2 separate regions of the Homo sapiens genome follow, and region 2 is linked to region 1. The links come from fine-mapping of genetic effects on gene expression. A gene starts in region 1. The other region holds a variant in brackets. All regions are shown on one strand. Distances are from middle to middle. Region 1 holds the start of TAF2 (TATA-box binding protein associated factor 2). Region 2 overlaps TAF2 (TATA-box binding protein associated factor 2).

Region 1 (2,922 bases):
AAGAATTCTTTCCTATATTATGTCTGAGGTCTCTATGATTTATTTAAAGTTTGGCTTTTTATATTTAAAATGTCATTTCTTTACTTAGGATTTGATGTTCTAATCATTAATACACTTAAGTTTTCCAGAGAACTAAATAGTAATAGTTTCATAGAAGAGAACTATTTATTCACTTAAATATCATTTCTCAAGTGAGTGAGTTCCCCTCTACTTTTAGCCTTCCACCCAAACTGGAAGCCTCTAGGTGCTATCAATTATTTATATCCATCGTTTACATCCATGAAATTGGCTGAATAATTACTCCTCTGCCTGGCGTAGACATGCGCTTTGGGAAAAAAACGAGTTTATAATCCTATAATGAAGAATACTGGCACAGGCAATGCTCACTCGAAAACTTCAAGTAATTTCTAGTTGGTTTTGGAATGCTTGATAAAGTTCCTTTACAGCTTTATTTTCCTGATTTGTTTTGGTTTAGATCAAAGTTCAAATTAATTTTAACTTAGCTAATGAACTCATCACCAGGACAGTTGGAGGGGGTAGGCCGAGGTTAAATGGTCCACGTTTCAAAAATGTTAATGGCTAATCCATAATTAAAGAAGGTTTAACTGTTACTGAAGTTTACAAGTTTTATTGTCATGAACATGAAATACAAACACGATGGCTTCGAAATGTCTTTCAATAAATGTTTCTGCATTTATATGGATTATATGATATATATACACAGTCTATATATCTCTATGTAGTCTATTTATTTATTTTGAGAGGGAGTCTCGCTTTGTCTCCCAGACTGGAGTGCAATGGCATGATCTCAGCTCACTGCAAACTCGGCTTCCCGAGTTCAGGTGATTCTGGTGCCTCACCCTCCCGAGTGGCTGGGAATACAGGCGCACGCCACGACGCAGGGCTAATTTTTGTATTTTTACTAGAGACGGGCTTTCACCATGTTGGCCAGGCTGGTCTTGAACTGCTGACCTCAAGTGATATGACTGCCTCAGTTTCCCTAAGTGCTAGGATTACAGGCGTGAGCCACCACGCCTGGCCTGTAGTCTATATTTTATTCTTTTTTTTTTTTTCTGAGACAGTCTCAGCTCTGTCGCCCAGGCTGGAGTGCAGTGGAACGATCTCAGCTCGCTGCAACTTCCGTCTCCCAGGTTCAAGCAATTCTCCTGCCCCAGCCTCCCAAGTAGCTGGGATTACAGGCGTGCACCACCACGCCCAGCTAATTTTGTGTAATTTTTAGTAGAGACGGGGTTTCACCATGTTGGTCAGGCTGGTCTCGAACTCCTGACCTCAAATGATCGGCCCGCCTCGGCCTCCCAAAGTGTTGGGATTACAGGAGTGAGCCACTGCGCCCGGCCTTGTAATCTATATTTTAAAATAAATACTAAGGCAGCAGTGCCTAGTGAGAGCTGTGGAGTGCTGCAGTTTTGACATTTAGACTACCTGCAGTCTAATCACATATTTTACAGCTTAAATCACCGGACCCAGTGTGTCTGTTCACACAGCAAGCCAGAGGCACGCACCTCCTGATTTCGGGAGACTTCCCACCACCCCACCCCGCCCAGTTACTAGCACCCTGCCCCAGCCTATTTATACCTGGCTCTTCGCAAACTTTGTCCTCCATTCTTCTCAATATGCTTGTACTAGAAAACTACCTTCCCTCCTTTTCTTCCTGCTGTTCTCGCTTCATCCATTAAATAGTTTTTTCCCTATCCTAAATTTTAACAATTCTTTACGATAAGACACATGCGAAGATCGCAAGCCCTGCCCATTGACAAGACTTCCTGGTTCTACCCCCGCCGCCGTTCCACTTCCGCTGACGTCGGAGGTCAGAGGTTACAGACAAGATGTCGGCGGATGGTAGCTTCGAGCCCTTGCGGAGAGGAGCATCTCTGTGACAGAAGCTTGTCGACGGCGGCTTCTAGGAGCTAGTCGAAGGAGCGAGGTTGAGGCGGGCAGCGACCCGTCAGGTCGCTCACCTGGGCACCGGCCAGCTGCGAGACGTGACTTGGGGACCGCAGGGGAGTGGAGAGTGTGAGGTGCCAAAGACTAGTAATGCCCCGTATCCCCCTAGGAAGCCGGGAAGCCAAGCTCCGCGGGACCGCTTCATGCCGCTGACTGGTGTAGAGCCCGCCAGAATGAACAGGAAGAAAGGAGACAAGGGCTTTGAAAGCCCAAGGCCATATAAATTATAAGTATTTTTTCATTTCCCTTCCTTCCTTTTGGTTTTGTTGCCATTAATTATATTTTGCGATTGCTTGAAATTGACTTGGTGGGCCTGGGAAACCTAGTGGGAAACTAGAATTTACTCACTGTGATGGAAATGGTGTTTGTAAGGTAAAAATGTTTTGAATGACAGGTTATTCAGCAAATTTAATTCCCGTTGCAAGTTACTAAAGTTTTTGTCTAAGTACTAGATTGTATTTCTGTCAAATCTGTTTTCGTGACTGTTGCTAGATTTTAAAAAATTATCCCAATTGGTAGAGTGTTTTTTTTTTTTTAATTTTTTAATTTTTAAGACGGAGTCTCTCAGTCGCCCAGGCTGGAGTGCAACGGCGCGATCTCGGCTCACTGCAGCCTCCACCTGCCGGGTTCAAGCTTTTCTCCTGGCTCAGCCTCCTGAGTAGCCGGGATTACAGGCGTGTGCCACGATGCCCGGCTAACTTTTGTATTTTTAGTAGAGACTCGGTTTCACTCTGTTGGCCAGGCTGGTCTCGAACTCTTGACCTCGTGATCCGCTTGCCGTGGCCTCCCAAAGTGCTGGGATTACAGGCGTGAGCCACCGCACCAGGCCCCAATTCGTAGTTTTAAAATGAAATATTGACATGTAATTTTGAATTACTTAGAACATAGTCCTAATTTATACTTGGATAGAATTATACTTTGATTTAATAATAAAAATTATTTTTTCCTTATTTTCTT
Region 2 (2,500 bases), 31 kb after region 1:
GAGGGAAGTATGGCAGAGAGAGGTGCTCATGTTTTCTCTTGTGGGTATCAAAATTCTACAAGGTAGATTATAGATTCTTAAATATTTCAATTAATTTTTAAATTGCATTTTTTATGTATAAGCAAGACATACATTTGGTGTAAAACAAGAAATACTAGTTTTATTCCCTTCCAAATTTAGACTTCTTTCAAATTACTTTCTGTTAGTCATTCCTCTTAAAAAAAAATTTTTTTTTCTTTTTTTTTTTTCAGACAGTCTTGCTCTGTCACCCTTGTTGGAATACACTGGGGTGCTATCTCTGCTCACTGCAACCTGTGCCTCCTGGGTTCAAGTGATTCTCATGCCTCAGCCTCCCAAGTAGCTGGTATTACAGGCATTCACCACTACACCTGCCTAATTTTTTATATTTTTAGTACAGATGGGGTTTTACCATGTTGGCCAGAATGGCCTTTAATTCCTGACCTCAAGTGATCTGCCTGCCTCAGCCTCCCAAAGTACTGGGATTACAGGCATGAGCCACCATGCCCGACCCCTCCTCAATCTTACATCTCCCTTCTTCTCTCTCATTTTCATGTCTACTGTTCTAAAATAATCATCTCACTTGATTCCTTCTTTTTTAAAAACTTTATATTGAAGTAAAACATACATACAGAAAATTGCACAGAATGTAAAGCTCGATGAATTTTCACAAGTGAACAAGCCTACATAATTTACATCTAGAGACAAAGAATATTACAAGATTATAGAGACCTCCTCTCACCTGCTTTCATACTCTACTTCCCCACTCCACATTCTACTACTCAACTCTGCTTATTTATTTATTTTTTTTGAAACAGAGTCTCACTCTGTTGTCCAGGCTGGAGTGCAGTGGCATAATCTTGGCTCACTGCAATCCCCACCTCCTGGGTTCCAGTGATTCTCCTACCTATCCTCCTAAGTAGCTGGGACTACAGGCATGTGCCACCACACCTGGCTAATTATTTTATTTTTAGTAGAGATCAGGTTTCGTCATATCTTTAGTAGAGATAGCCTGTTGCACCAGCTGGAGTGCAGTGGCGCAATCTCGGCTCATGCAATCTCGGCTCATGCAACCTCCACCTTCCAGGTTCAAGTGATCCTCCTGCCTCAGCCTCTGGAGTAGCTGGGATTACAGGCAGATGCCACATGCCTGGCCAATTTTTGTATTATTAGTAGAGACAGGGTTTCACCATGTTGGCCAGGCTGGTTTCCAACTCCTGACCTCAGGTAATCCACCTGCCTCAGCCTCCCATAGTGCTGGGATTACAGGTGTCAGCCACTGCGCCCAGCCTGTCCTCAGATTATTATAATAACTTCTCTAAACCAGGGATAATGTCTTACACACTTTTGTGCTTCAATACTAAGTACCTACCCTGTCA[C/T]GTAACACCTTACTGAACTGATGAAAGCTGACTATAAATTTTATATCTAACTTAACCAGCACTCAGTTTGAATTTATACAATACGTTACATACTCCAAAAAAGCAGTTTTATAATTTAATGGAATAAATTCTGAATGTTAGTTATGCTTTATAAAACTTTTTGCTGTGAGCCTTTTTTAGTTTCTAGAAATGAATGCTGCATAAAAACTGACTAATATGCGGATACAAGTTAAAATTATTTTTTAAAACACTGAAAGCTAAGAATTGCTTAACTCTTTTTAGGGTTTGAACTGATGGTACCACATAATATATTTTCTTAATATTGCCAAATAGTATTTGGAAACAGATTTTATTTTATCAGATTTTTTTCAGGTTGTACAGTAAAAAGCTTCAGTAGCCAAATAGCTAAAGGTTTTGTTTGTTCATTTTCTAGAAATGCTAAAATAACTTGCATGTGGGGAAAACAATGTAGAGAACTCTTTGAATACATTTTCTATACTGTCAATCTTTTTTCTAGATTTTGGTTCCCTTGTGTTGATTCATACTCTGAATTGTGTACATGGAAATTAGAATTTACAGTAGATGCTGCAATGGTTGCTGTTTCTAATGGCGATTTGGTGGAGACAGTGTATACTCATGATATGAGGAAGAAAACTTTCCATTATATGCTTACCATTCCTACAGCAGCGTCAAATATCTCCTTGGCCATTGGACCATTTGAAATACTGGTAGATCCATACATGCATGAGGTAAGTCAGAGCTTTCCTCTCTTACTCTCCTCCTGGCCCTTTACTGCTTTTAAAAAGATAGATATTGGCAAGGCACGGTGGCTCATGCCTGTAATCCCAGCACTTTGGGAGGCCAAGGTGGGCGGATCACAGGGTCAGGAGATCGAGACCATCCTGGCTAACACAGTAAAACCCTGTCATTACTAAAAATACAAAAAATTAGCCAGGCGTGGTGGTGGGCGCCTGTAGTCCCAGCTACTCGGGAGGCTGAGGCAGGAGAATGGCTTGAACCCAGGAGGCAGAGCTTGCAGTGAGCTGAGATTGTGCCACTGCACTCCAGCCTTGATGACAGAGCGACATCTCAAAAAAAAAAAA

The links. PIP is the estimated chance that this variant, and not a neighbour inherited with it, causes the effect. A credible set is the group of variants that fine-mapping cannot tell apart.
Region 2: its variant is the best candidate, but not a certain one, in a credible set for the expression of TAF2 in whole blood (INTERVAL, PIP 0.72).

Annotation. Positions count from the first base shown.
Region 1 is chr8:119,831,751-119,834,672 of GRCh38, reverse strand. It overlaps TAF2 (TATA-box binding protein associated factor 2), which reads left to right and starts at 1,832. Exons shown (of 26, transcript NM_003184.4): 1 at 1,832-2,191. The coding sequence starts at 2,109. DSCC1 (DNA replication and sister chromatid cohesion 1) reads left to right here. Exons shown (of 9, transcript NM_024094.3): 9 at 1-697. It overlaps LOC105375728 (a long non-coding RNA gene), which reads right to left and starts at 1,794. Exons shown (of 4, transcript XR_928590.3): 1 at 1,597-1,794. RefSeq lists enhancers at 1,711-2,070, 2,131-2,180.
Region 2 is chr8:119,801,440-119,803,939 of GRCh38, reverse strand. TAF2 (TATA-box binding protein associated factor 2) reads left to right here. Exons shown (of 26, transcript NM_003184.4): 5 at 1-62; 6 at 1,915-2,146. Among named protein-coding and RNA genes, the nearest start is that of TAF2, 30 kb to the left of the region's middle. The variant C/T (reference allele first, on the strand shown) is at 1,398.